Linked DNA regions of Homo sapiens. The protein of the gene in region 1 interacts with the protein of each later gene in a pairwise test. Each region holds a gene or a part of one and is shown in the gene's direction. Other genes may lie near its edges.

The links. The genes of interacting proteins can lie anywhere in the genome.
Region 2: the proteins of TMPO (region 1) and LMNB2 interact in a two-hybrid assay, tested with the Homo sapiens proteins (2 studies listed by BioGRID, with this or other methods).

Annotation. Positions count from the first base shown.
Region 1 is NC_000012.12:98,539,588-98,546,614, forward strand, and holds part of TMPO (thymopoietin), read left to right. Parts: intron 1-4,642; coding exon 4,643-4,762; intron 4,763-4,854; coding exon 4,855-4,950; intron 4,951-5,363; coding exon 5,364-5,474; intron 5,475-6,771; coding exon 6,772-6,860; intron 6,861-7,027. UniProt on the Homo sapiens protein: May help direct the assembly of the nuclear lamina and thereby help maintain the structural organization of the nuclear envelope. Possible receptor for attachment of lamin filaments to the inner nuclear membrane.
Region 2 is NC_000019.10:2,439,941-2,446,967, reverse strand, and holds part of LMNB2 (lamin-B2), read left to right. Parts: intron 1-2,427; coding exon 2,428-2,564; intron 2,565-7,027. UniProt on the Homo sapiens protein: Lamins are intermediate filament proteins that assemble into a filamentous meshwork, and which constitute the major components of the nuclear lamina, a fibrous layer on the nucleoplasmic side of the inner nuclear membrane.

The DNA of each region.
Region 1 (7,027 bases):
TTCAGCCTCCTGAGTAGCTGGGATTACAGGTTCCCGCCACCATGCCCAGCTAGTTTTTGAATTCTTAGTAGAGACCAGGTTTCACCATGTTGGCCAAGCTGGTCTCGAACTCCTGACCTCAGGTGATCCACCCGCCTTGGCCTCCCAGATTGCTGGGATTACAGGCATGAGCTACCGCACCTGGCAATAAATTGCTTTTGATTTTTTTTATTTTGCTTTTTCCTGGAGTATATTAAAGCAGTCTTTGACATAGTGTTTCACACATTAAAAAGTCAGCATTTTAGCATATATCTCTGAAAGATAAGTGCTATTCCAGTGACAATGCCAATATCACACCTAATAAAATTAATAATTTATTTGTATCTAATTCATGTTTAAATTTCTCTAGTTTCAGAAATGTTTCGTTTATGATTATGTTGTTCAAATCAGGATCCAGACAGGATCCACATATCCGGTTTGATTTTTGGTTGTTTTACTCTCTCAAGTCTGTAGCTGTTACCACTGTAACTTTTTCTCTTCCCTCCATTTATTTGGTGAAGAAACCAGGTCATTACAGAATTTCCCAACATTCTGGATTTGTTAGGTTGCTTCTTTATGTCATTTAATTAGCTTCTCTATACGCTGCATTTTCTGTAGAGTGGGTTAGATCTGTAGTGAGGCTATGCAGTAGACCTTTCTGTGATAGAAATTTTTCATACCTGTGCTATCCGTTACAGTAGCCACTAGCTATTGAATACTTCGATGGTGACTAGTGAGGCTGAGAAACTCTGTTTTGCTTTGTTGTTGTTGTTGTTTTTGTTTTTGTTTGTTTGTTTTTTGAGATGGAGTTTCATTCTTTTTGCCAAGGTTGGTGTGATCTCAGCTCCCCACAACCTCTGCCTCCCAAGTTCAAGCGATTCTCCTGCCTCAGCCTCCTGAGTAGCTGGGATTACAGGCATGTGCCACCACGCCCGGCTAATTTTGTATTTTTAGTAGAGACGGGGTTTCTCCGTGTTGGTCAGGCAGGTCTCGAACTCCCGACCTCAGGTGATCCACCCGCCTCAGCCTCCCAAAATGCTGGGATTACAGGCGTGAGCCACTGCGCCTGGCGGAAACTATGTTTTAATTTTAATTTAAATTAAATTTCAATGACCATATGTGGCTAGTGGCCTACCATATTGGACGGCACAGATCCAGAGGGTTGGTCAGATCCATGTCCAGTTTCTTTCACAAGAATACTTAAATGATATAGCGGCCTTCCTGTTACATCGTTTTAGGAGGTATAGAATGTCTTTCTGGCGATGCTAAAATTAGTAATTGATTTAGATTTTGAAAGATTAATCCATCTGTTATAAAGATCCACATTGTCCTTTCATTTAATGGTTCTAACAGCCATTGTCATATGATTATTGCCTAGGTCTATTATTTTGAGGTTTTTTTTATGTATTGAATTTATGATCAGTTACAGTCATCATTCTTTTTTGATGTTCACATTGTGCCATCTGTAGCCATTAGGAATTACTAAGTTGGTTCCTGTATTTTTTAATTCCTTCCCCCATTTATCTTTGATAGTTTCTTGTTTTCTGGAATAGTAAGACGTCCCAGGCTCATGTATACTTCCTGCGTCATGCCTGGAATCAGCCATGTTTCTAAGGAACCGTGATCCTTTTAATAGATAATACTATTTGGAAGCAACAATTTGGATGCTGACATGTTCATTCCTACTGGTTGTCATTGTTTCTGGGTCTTTTCAGTAGGTAGTGCTAGGTAAATCATGAATTAATGGTGATATTTCAAATTTATAAATACAGGCTAATTTTGGGTTATGTTATACTTGTATCATTTTTATCTTATGCTGAATATCTTGGTTCTTCAAATGATGTTGTTACTTATGTAAGTATCACAACATATATGTGTTTCTAAATAATACAGTATTACTACTAACAATAAGACTGTTAAATGCAATTTGGGCTTTTGTTTTCCTTGTCTTTAGGACATATCCCACTAGAATGTAATGTCAAAACACTGTGCTTAAAGTCACTTGAAAGAATTTTTTTGTGTCATACAGCCACCAACTTAATAGTTAGGTTTTTTTGTTCTCTAATGCTAGGATTGCTTTTTCTTTTATTATTTTTTAATTGTGTTGAGAGTATAATGTAGTTTTATGTAGGCAAAATAAGGTAGAGTCAGAATTTTGGCTTCTGTCCTTTTCCCTTCCATCTACAGATAAGCATTTTTATTGTTTTGATTTATATTTTGTTTCTTTTTAAAAATATAAGTAAATATATAGATTTTTATATGCTCCCCTTTTACATAAAATGCAGCCTGCTTTGTACATTTCCATTTTTAACCTAAACCTAGAGATCACTCCATATCGGAACGTAGCCATCTTCCTCATTGCTTTGTACAACTGCATTTTATGTGTTGCATTTTATGGATGTACTGTAATTTATTTAACCACTCTCCATTTGGTGAATATTTGAGTTGTTTTCAGCTGTATGTTGCTATGAATAATGCCAGGATGAACCATGGAGCAGCATTTTGCATGTGTCACTGCATATTTTTTGCCAGTTTATCTTGGGGAAGCGTACCAGTAAAATTGCTAGGTAATTTCACCATTACATTTCTCTGCATATGAGTTGAAGCATTTTGCATTCCCACCAGCAGTGTTTGAAAGTACTGTTCTCAAATGGAGGAATATGAGGCTTTTTTGTTTTGTTTTGTTTTTTAATAAAGTTAGTACGAGTAACCATATTGGTCATGTTTTACTTAAATTGATAGGCCTTCAAGATGGCTTTTAGTTATCTCAGGAGCTTTAGAAATTATCTATTCCCAGACCTGGAGAGATTCTGATTTAATTGGTTATGGTAGTTGGGGGCATTTGCTTTTTTTTTTTTTTTTAAAGCTCTCCTTGATGGTACTGTGCCACAAGGATTGAGAATCTCAGATTATAAAACTACCTTTCCGTCTATTCAAATAGTTGGTAATTTGACTATTAAAAACCACTTACTCTGGCCAGGTGCAGTGGCTCACACCTGTAATCCCCGCACTTTGGGAGGCCCAGGTGGGTGGATCACCTGAGGTCAGGAGACCAGCCTGGCCAACATGGCAAAACCCTGTCTCTACTGAAAATACAAAAAAATCAGCCAAGTGTGCTGGTGCGTGCCTGTAATCCCAGCTACTCAGGAGGGTGAGGCAGGAGAATCACTTGAACCTCGCAGGTGGAGGTTGCGGTGAGTGGAGATTGCACCACTGTACTCCAGCCTGGGCAACAGAGCGAGATTCTGTCTCAAAAAAATAAATAAAATAAAAATTAAAAAGCAGTTACTCTGTGTATGTCTGTAATTTGTTTACAAGTTTCTCTTTTGACAATAATTTTGCATTCAGCAAATACTTCCTAATTGATAGGATGAGGAACCCAGAGATTCAGATTGTGACTTAAAACTCTTATAATATCAATTCCAAATATAGATAAATACAAAACCATGATTTATGAGACTATGTCTGTAACTTGTGGGGTTTTGGTAGTATTACATCCAGCCATTTAGGCATATTTATTGGATGACCACTCCTGTCACAGGATTAAAGTTTAAAAAAAAAATCTGTCTTTAATAGACATTGACTTGGACCTAAAACCATCAGTAATCTAGGTTAAATATTGGCGTGAAAGCAAAAGTGACAACAGAAGGACACTCTACTATAATACTGATCATTGATGGATGTTCTGTAGTTAAAAGAATTTAAAAGAATCATCTGGTAATAGCGACTTCAAAACTGAAAACCTTAAACTACTTGGAATGCGGAATTTCGGGCCCTACAGCTACAGAATCAGAATCTGCATTTAACAGAAGCTTCAAGTGATTGATAGGCACATTACAATTTAAGAAGAACTGATCTAATGGGTTTTAAACCAGTATGTAAGAAATGCTGGATTCTTTAAAAATGATCAGTGGAACATAGAAATTAATCTGAGACTGAGAATTAATCTGAGGCAGCTGTTTTCTGTCTTTCTGTAGTGACATGGATAGCATTGAGATTTGAAAGTGACGTTAGGCTTGCATATTCATTAAAGAGTGACCACAGGGTTTTTGTGGCTACCTAATTTTGTATCTGTTTCCAAGAAAAATTTGACACCTGAGAATTTTTTAGTTCAAATAAGCTATATGTGGGATTATAATTTAAACTGATTCTACTAAAATGATTATAACCATATGAAAATAATAATGTTTATGCTAACAATTACAAAAGTTTGTATTTTTGTTTTAAAAGGAAACTGACTTATAATAGATGACTTTTTTCTAAGTCATGATCAGTCTGCTTTTTGTTTAGACAGAGATGTAGCTCCAATACTAGAGCCAAATAGCACACAGTGAGTCAAAAAGGGAACTGGTGATAGTTGATGTGCTTTTTTTCCCATAATGTTTATAATTTGTGAGCTACTATAGGTGGATTCTTTAGTGTATTTTAGCACTTTTTAAGTGTTTCCTGATGCCTAAATATCAGTTCAATTAATACATTTAGGAATATTTTGAGGACATAGCCTTGTTTGTAAATGCTGGCATTTGGAGACTTCTATTTCATGGCTTCTCAGTGTGCCAGTATGGCCGTTATTAAAGTATTTGATGTTAGAATATGACTTTTTAATGTGTTGATGCTTGAATAGAGCTATTCTCAAGCTGGAATAACTGAGACTGAATGGACAAGTGGATCTTCAAAAGGCGGACCTCTGCAGGCATTAACTAGGGAATCTACAAGAGGGTCAAGAAGAACTCCAAGGAAAAGGGTGATGCAAGGCTTATTCCTTGGGTTTTCAGATTTGTAGGGTTTTAGTATTATTTTATATTTATTGTTTTTGTTTTGTTTTCAAACTAACAGGTGGAAACTTCAGAACATTTTCGTATAGATGGTCCAGTAATTTCAGAGAGTACTCCCATAGCTGAAACTATAATGGCTTCAAGCAACGAATCCTTAGTAAATATGTTTCATAAACTATACAAGTGGTATTCTTTGTAAATTACCCTTTAATTGGAAATGGGGAGGTGGTGAATTTTGGCAAATCTCAAATTTACATGTTTTTTTTTTTTAACAATTTTAAACTGATTTTCCCCATATAGTTCTGAATTTTAGAATTTTCCTATAATATCCAATTTATGTAAAGAAATCTAATTCATTGTACAAGAAAGTATAAGGATATTTTTTGTTAAAATATTTGAAGAATGAGGCTTCATATGTGAGGCACTAAGTTGTGTTTGTAGGCTGTGTTGCTTAAATCTTTACTAAGGGAAAATTTCTAATATTACAGAGATAAAATATCTTTCTTTTCTTTTTAAGTGTCTGTGTTATGTTTGGATAATTCTGAGTCTGAATAATTTGAATCTTGGCAGGTTGTCAATAGGGTGACTGGAAATTTCAAGCATGCATCTCCTATTCTGCCAATCACTGAATTCTCAGACATACCCAGAAGAGCACCAAAGAAACCATTGACAAGAGCTGAAGTAAATGAATACAATTTAGATCGATGCTATCATTGATCTTTCAAAGAGGAAATATAAATATTTGTTTGTTTTTTTTTTTTTTTTTTGGAGTGGGAGGGAGCAGAGCTTTCTTTATTGGGTGGTGTGTGTAAATATGCATAAATTATTTTAAGGACACTTTTATTAGTGAAAACAGAAATTAACTAATATAGTTTGACATGCTAATACTATCCTCTTGCCACTGTATCCCTCTTAAGTTCCAGTTTTCAAGGGAGTGGTCATTTCTGTTCTGCTTATAATATGTTCTGTTTGTCATGGATGCAAGTTTGAAAGTGCTGCTGGGCTATGAGGGAGGCTACACTTTCTTTTGTTGACGGGTCAAATAAGAGACTTTAACATAACTTCATGTGGTGCTGGAATGGGTTAACTCCTGTGTAATTAAGCTTGAAAGTACTAACTGCATGGTGCATTTTAATTTGAATGAATCTTTACAAAAGGAGCCGAAACATTTATTATTTTGTTCTGGACATAAAGGTAAACAGTAAAACAAGCTAAACATTATATTTTTTTTAATTTGGGCATATTGCATTGACTATAATTTTAAAACATATAGTAAAGTTTGCTAAAGGTTCATGTTAAGTATCTTCTGTATTTTATCTTTTACTACAGAATTCTTAATAAATGAAGAAACAGTATACTTTTTTTTTTTTGAAACGGAGTCTTGCTCTGTTGCCCAGGCTGGAGTGCAGTGGCACGGTCTCAGCTCACTGCAACCTCCGCCTCCTGGGTTCAAGCGATTCTCCTGCCTCAGCCTCCTGAGTAGCTGGGATTACGGGTGCCCGCCACCACGCCCAGCTAATTTTTGTATTTTTAGTAGAGATGGGATTTCACTATGTTGGTCAGGCTGGTCTCGAACTCCTGACCTCAGGTGATCCACCCGCCTCAGCCTCCCAAAGTGCTGGGATTACAGGCGTGAGCCACCGTACCCGGCCCAACAATATACTCTTAATAGTAAAAAACAAAATCAATGAGGGAATTAGCATTGCCATGTTAGATTACTGAATTTTTTCCCCCCAGTTATTTAAATGTGTGGCAGTTTTTCACTCCAATAACCACATATATAAGGTATCTTCAAGAAATTTGAAGAGAGCCTTGGAAGCATGTGGATACCTAAATAATAATTTAGAAATGGCAGCTGTAAAATCTATGATAGATTTAAAGGCATTTTGTTCTCTAAAACTTACTATTTATGTTTTAATTATTGCATGTTTACACTAAATTTTAACTTGTGGTTGTTTGTTTGTCTGTTTCTTATTAGGTGGGAGAAAAAACAGAGGAAAGAAGAGTAGAAAGGGATATTCTTAAGGAAATGTTCCCCTATGAAGCATCTACACCAACAGGAATTAGGTATTCAGATACATTTAAACAAGTACTAGTGTATTCTAGTAGGGAATCTTTATTTTTAATTCTTCATCACAAAGTTACTGTACTTCTGCTCAGAATTAAGCTGTTTTTTTGGAGCCAGGTACAATGGTACATGCCTGTAGTCCCAGCTACTCAAGAGACTAAGGCAG
Region 2 (7,027 bases), on another chromosome or scaffold:
GGGGTTTCACTGTGTTAGCCAGGATGGTCTCGATCTCCTGACCTTGTGATCCGCCCGCCTCGGCTTCCCAAAGTGCTGGGATTACAGGTGTGAGCCACTGCGCCCGGCACCATGTGTAGTTTTCAAACATGCATGGATGTGAATTTCATGTCTTCTGGGTCCACACCCAGGAGTGGAGTTACCGGGTCACAGGGTGGCTCTGTGACTCTTGGGGGAGCCCCTGGACTGTTTTCTGTAGAGCTGTCTCAGCTCAGGTTCCTGCCGCTGCCTGTGAGGTTCCGATTTCTCTGCGTACTCGCCCGCACCTGCGACTGTCTGTCTTCTTGACGGACGCCCTGGCTGGTGCGAAGTGGCATCTCACTGCGGTTTGCTTCCACATATTTTTAAACTCACTGAGTGCATGGCCCTGTGGGAGGAGGGGAGGCAGGAAGGCCACTAGAAGCCTGAGCTGTGCCCCCAGCTGGCGCGTGCAGAGGCCGGGCAGGTGGCGGCTGTGGTTGCAGCAGGATTAGTAGGAAGTGAAGAGGTCGCCTTCCCTGGCACCGCATGTGCCTCGAGTTCACCTGGAGGCCCTCGAGAGGGGCGGGTTTGGGGGCTTTGCGCGGGGCTTAGGGAGGGGCTTTCTTTAGCTGGGCGGCCCAGAGGGTGTTCCAGTCGCTTCTGCCTGCCCTGGTGACCCCTGGCTCTCCAGCCCCTCCCCATGTCCTTGCTGGCTGGGCTGGGTCTCCGTCGGGAAAGGTGGGGGCCGCTGGTGGGGTGGGGAGCTGGAGACTCTGACTACAGATCCCTGTGATCGAGGGGTGAAAGGTGGGGGTGACTGGTGGGGGGGGCAGCTGGGGACTGACTACAGATCCCTGTGATCGAGGGGTGAAAGGTGGGGGCGGCTGGTGGGGTGGGGAGTTGGGGACTCTGACTACAGATCCCTGTGATTGAGGGGTGAAAGGTGGGGGCAGCTGGTGGGGTGGGGAGTTGGGGACTCTGACTACAGATCCCTGTGATCGACGGGTGAAAGGTGGGGGCGGCTGGTTGGGGGGGGCAGCTGGGGACTGACTACAGATCCCTGTGATCGAGGGGTGAAAGGTGGGGGCGGCTGGTGGGGTGGGGAGTTGGGGACTCTGACTACAGATCGCTGTGATCGAGGGGTGAAAGGTGGGGGCCGCTGGTGGGGTGGGGAGCTGGGGACTCTGACTGCAGATCCCTGTGATCGAGGGGTGAAACGTGGGGGCCGCTGGTGGGGTGGGGAGCTGGGGACTCTGACTGCAGATCCCTGTGATCGAGGGGTGAAAGGTGGGGGCCGCTGGTGGGGTAGGGAGCTGGGGACTCTGACTGCAGATCCCTGTGATCGAGGGGTGAAAGGTGGGGGCCGCTGGTGGGGTGGGGAGTTGGGGACTCTGACTACAGATCCCTGTGATCGAGGGGTGAAAGGTGGGGGCCGCTGGTGGGGTGGGGAGCTGGGGACTCTGACTGCAGATCTCTGTGATTGAGGGGTGGGAGCTTCTGTCCTGGAGCCTCCGAGCCACCACATTGGCAGCTGGCCTGTCGGGGGGACACAGCATGGGAAGGCCAGATGCTCCTCCCTCCATCCCAGGGAACAGCCCAGCCTGAGCCTGGGCCATGTGCCTGCGTGTGAGGTAGGGGCACAGAGGGGCACGGGCTGGCCCCCGGTTGGCAGAAGTGGGGGATCTTGGGCTCAGCGGGGTCTGGGGGAGCGGGGGCTCCAGGTTGCAGAGGCCTGGGGGGAGTCTCAGGGGCCCAGAGGGGTCTGGGAGGGGACTCCAGGTTGCAAAGGCTGGTGGGGGCAGGGGGCTCTCAGGCCCAGTGGGGTCTGGGAGGGCCCCGGGTTGCTGTCATCACCAGTTGTCCGAGAGTGATCAGCCCAGTGTCCATGGTGCCCAGCGGGAGAGATCCTTGATTAAACATCCCACCAGTTTTCTGGTTCTGAAACCGAGAGTGTGAAAAATGCATCTAATGGCCAGGCATCGTGTCGCTATGACAGCGGCCAAGGGGCTGCATGTCCAGGTGTGGCTGGTCCTCCGGGGAAGGGGACAGGCTCCATCCAGCTGCTGTGCTGGTCCAGGCCCAGGGCCTTTGGTCTCCAGCACTGGGCGCCGCTGTTCTGGGAGCTGGAGCTCGTGGAGAGACGATCATTCCAGAGGGGGCCGCAGCAGAGGAGGAGGCTCCTGGGATGGCTGGGACCCAGGGTCGCCTGGCTTCCTCCTGGTTACCGGACCCTCCCCGACAGGGGGCTCCCTTTGCTGTGTCTGTGAGATGGGCAACACAGGGTGTCCCAGTGTCCCCAGGCTGCCATCCTCTCTCTCTGCGTGCCAGTCCCTGGGAATCTGAGCAGGGCCAGTGGCCGGGCCCCCTGACTGCTGTAGTCCAAGGGGAAGGGTCCCTCTCGCTTCACCCTGTCCTGGGTCTCCCCAGGTGAGTGGCATCAAGGCGCTGTACGAGTCGGAGCTGGCCGATGCCCGGAGAGTCCTGGATGAGACGGCTCGAGAGCGTGCCCGGCTGCAGATAGAGATTGGGAAGCTGAGGGCAGAGTTGGACGAGGTCAACAAGAGGTGAGTGGTCACGGCTGGGCACGACGTCACCCTGATCCTGGCACCACGGGGTGGACGGGGGCAGGTGGGCGCTGGGCTCGTGCGGGGCATGCTCTGATACGGGCACAGCCTGGAGCTCACAGCTCCCATCCTCTCTCCCCCACCAGTGGCTGCCACGTCACTTTTTCTGTTCTGAGGAAAGTGATAGATGCTCACATCGGACAGCAGGAAGCGCAGGGCAGCTTAAGCTCACAAGTAAAATCTCCCGCGAGCCTCCCCAGAGAGGGCTTCCTGGTCAGCCTGGCCTGTCTCCTTAGTGTGCACACGCGCTTGCACATGCTTACCTAGACCCCGGGCGGCACCCAGTGGACACCGTGAGACGCGTTTGACCTCAGGCCCCATCGTAGGCATTTCCCTGTGGTTGGATGTTCTTGGTGCCGGGGTTTTGTCCCAGCTGTTGGGACGCTCGGGTGTGTGGTGTGTGACCAGGGTGCTCATGGGTTGTTGGGCTGCCCCAGGGTTGGCTGCAAAGTCCTTCTGGGTGACAACTGTGTCCATCGGCAGAAACGATCTCCCCTCTCAGCCTGGCAGTGAGTCTTGCCTGATTCTGGGCGTGGGATGTGGTTGGGCGGCAATTTAAACAGAACGATGATGACAAAAGGAATATTTATTCAGAGGAGCCAGGAGGCCAATGAAACACTGAGCTCAAGGCTTTTCTTGATGTGAGGCTCCAGCTAGAGCGAGGTCTCTGGTGCCCTGCGTGTGGACACTGTCTTCCGTGGTCTCCGGCCACCGGCATTCAGGCACCTGCAGGTGCCTCGGATTTCCTCAGGCTGGGGTGGGTCAGGGTCTTCCCACACTGCTCATTCTCCCAGAGCCACGCAGGCCTGGCTCAGCATGGAGGGATCTGCTGGCAGGAGGGGTGGCACCTCGGCCACCTGGTACGGGGGTGACAGCAGCCAGTGGCTTGAGAATCCACGTTGTCCCTGAGTTGGAGTGTGGCCAGAGGAATGACCGGGGACCCTGTGTCCAACAGTGCCGGGGCCCCCATGCGTGGTTGCAGGTGACCTCTCCATCCGACGCCCTCCTCCTTCCTGGGCTGGCGCTGCTCCCGTGGAGAGCTGACTTCCCTTCCCCAACAGGAGACCCTCCAGGTCAGCCCAGGGACCACCGCCCGCCTGCCCGGGGCCTGGGGCTCCAGGAGGGACCATTTGTGCCCTGATGGTGGCCATGAGCCGGGGACCCTGGGGCCAGGCACCAGCCAGGACAGGCTGCCCACTCTCAGCACATCCCACACAGCACAGGTGCACCCCGGGACCTGCTCAGGCAGCAGCTCTGTGCTGTCTACCTCCAGCACCCACCGTGTTTAATAAGCAGGTTCATCAGTGGAGCCATGCAGGCTGTGGGATGACTAGAGCTTGGTCAGGGGTGCACGGAGCTCTGAAATGTCAGAACTACACCGTGCAGATGGGACAGAGCTGCTGCTGGCCCCGCACCAGGCGCCTCTCAACTGTTCACTTTAAGATGTTGAAATGTACAGGATGTGAATTTCACCTCAAATTAAAACATTAAAAAAAGAAAATGGTACACAGTGCCCGCCCTAGGTGTTGAGGAATTCCCAGTTCACAATCTCCTGAGCAGTGCGTGGCATCTACAGAGAGGCCCGTCTTTTCCTTTTCATTAAGACAGGGTCTCTGTTGCCTAGGCTGGAGCTCAGTGGCACAATCATAGCTCGCTGCAGCCTCGAACTCCCAGGCTCAGGTGATCCTGCCTCAGCCCCACCCCGAGTAGCTGGGACCCCAGGCATGCACCACTACACCCAACTAATTTTTTTTATTTTTTATTTATTTCCTTTTGAGACATAGTCTTGCTCTGTCACCCAGGCTGGAGTGCAGTGGTGCAATCTCGGCTCACTGCAACATCCACCTCCCAAATTCAAACGATTCTCCTGCCTCAGCCTCCTGAATAGTTGGGATTAGAGGCTCACACCACCTTGCCCAGCTAATTTTTTTACCAAGTTGGCCAGGCTGGTCTCAAACTCCTGGACTTAAGCGATCCACCCGCCTTGGCCTCCCAGAGTGCTGGGATTACAGATGTAAACCACCATGCCTGGCCTAATTTTTTTATTATTTGTAGAGATGAGGTCTCGCTATGTTGCTCAAGCTGGTCTTCAACTCCCAGGCTAAAGTGATCCTCCCACCTCAGCCTCCCAAAGCACTGGGTATAGGTATGAGCCACTGGGCCAAGCCTAATGTTTTTCTTATCCTAACAAATTTATCTCCAAAACCCCACAATGAGAGAAACACTGGGAGCAGCGTGCAGGACCTAACAAGCCAGAGCCTGCCACAAAACCCCGGGCACCCAGCTGAAGATTCTAACTCAGCACCTGGCGCTTAGGAAACGGGTCTGAGCCCTGGGAGCCCGCACCCTGCCTTCTGGGTGTGCCCTGCAGTCCTGCGGAACCCTGTGGTTTAGACCGAGTTGCTGAGGAGCTTCCCGGATTCCCCGATCTCCGCTCCAGTCCTCTGAGCTGGTCTGCAGCCTGCCTCTTCCACCTCACCCCTGGGCCTTTGCACTGCTGCTCGCCTGCCTGGAAGGCTCTTTCAGCAGCGGTGGCCCTGGCTCCTCCAGCACTGCTCCTTCAGGTCTCTGCCCCCAGGGTTGTCTCCCAGCCCCACTCCAGCCCTGCCCCCAGGCAACCTCCTGTCTGGTAGGCAGCCTGTGTCGCTGATGCCTCCCTCCGCAAGGACGTCCCGCAGTGTAAGGCAAGGGTTCTAGATGCACCTCTGGTGTGAGAGCGGTGCCTTCCACACAGCGGGCACTCGGGATTTGCCCAACAGATTCCACCTTCCCCCAAACCCCTGCAAAAATCCCCAGCAGGGCCGCAGGGCTCGCAGCCCTCTGAGCGAAAGGGCCTGGCCTGTGTGGCATGTGCTCAGAGATGCGGGATCTGCACCCCAGACCCTGCTGGAGATCTGCTCCATGTGGGGAAGTAGAGCTTAGTGTCCCTGAGGGCTGCGGACAGGGGTGCATCAGCCTTGTGGCCGAAGTCTCTGGCCTTCACGCCTCTCAAAAGCAAGCAGATGCCACACCTCTAGTGTGTGGAGAGCCCTGGCTACACCAGGTCCAGCGCCAGAGCGGCTGGCCGCCCTGCCCTGGCGGGACACAACCGGAGCCAGACCCGGGATTCAGGGTACCCGGCACGGATGCTTTTACCTGGCAGGTGGCCTTAGACCTGGTTGTCTGACCCCCGACCAGGGACCCCTCACACGAGAGACCTGTTTACACAGTGGCTGCCCCGTAGCTCGTGTCTGACCTGTGTCCAGGGTATGCCTGTCCGACCATCGCTCTGGCACTGGGATCCCAGCCTGGGGCAGCTCCTGGTTCTTCTGACAGAAGGCGCAAATTCAGCACAGCGATAGGAAACAAGTTTGAAGATTTATTACGGATCCTAGGCAGGGAGGGCACTGTGAGCTGGGAAGGCAGCCCTCCCTCCCCGGGTCACACAAGGAAGGAAGGAAGAGTCCCACAGAGAGTGAGAGCTTGGCAGCTAGTGAGAGAGAGAGGGAGATGGGTGGATGATGGATGGATGGCTGGATGGGTGGACGGATGATGGATGGATGAGTAGATGGATGGATGATGGATAGATAATGGATAGATAGATGATGGATGGATGAGTGGATAGATGGATGGATGGATGGATGAGTAGATGGATGAATGGATAGATGATTGAGGGATGGATGGAAGGATGGATGGATGGAGATGATGGATAGATGATGGATGGATGAGTAGATGGATGGATGGATGATGGGTGGATGGATAGATGGACAGATGAGTGGATGGATGGATGGATGATGGGTGGATGGATGGATGGATGATGGGTAGATGGATAGACAGTAATAGATAGAGCAATAGATAGATATAGCTATCTGTAAGGCTGGGTGCGGTGGCTCATGCCTGTAATCCCAGCACTTTGGGAGGCCAAGGCGGACAGATCACTTGAGGATGGGAGTTCAAGACCAGGCTAACCAACATGGAGAAACCCCGTCTCTACTAAAAATACAAAATTATCTGGGCGTGCTGGCACTTGCCTGTAATCTCAGCTACTTGGGAGGCTGAGGGAGGAGAATCGCTTGAACCCGGGAGGTGGAGGTTGCAGTGAACCGAGATCGCACCATTGCACTCCAGCCTGGGCAACAAGAGCGAAACTCCATCTCAAAAAAAAAAAAAAAGATACAGCCATCTGTAGAATTGATATATACGGACATAGATTATATAGATAAATACAGTTATTGATGGAGATATACTTAGACAGACATACGGTCACTTTCAGCTATGGGTCACTTTCATTTCTTGGGCAAATGCCTAGGTGGTCTTTTGAAAGGCCCTGGGGGACCAGGCGCAGTGGTTCACGCCTGTAATCCCAGCACTTTGGAGGCCGAGGCGGGCAGATCACCTGAGGTTGGGAGTTCGAGACCAGCCTG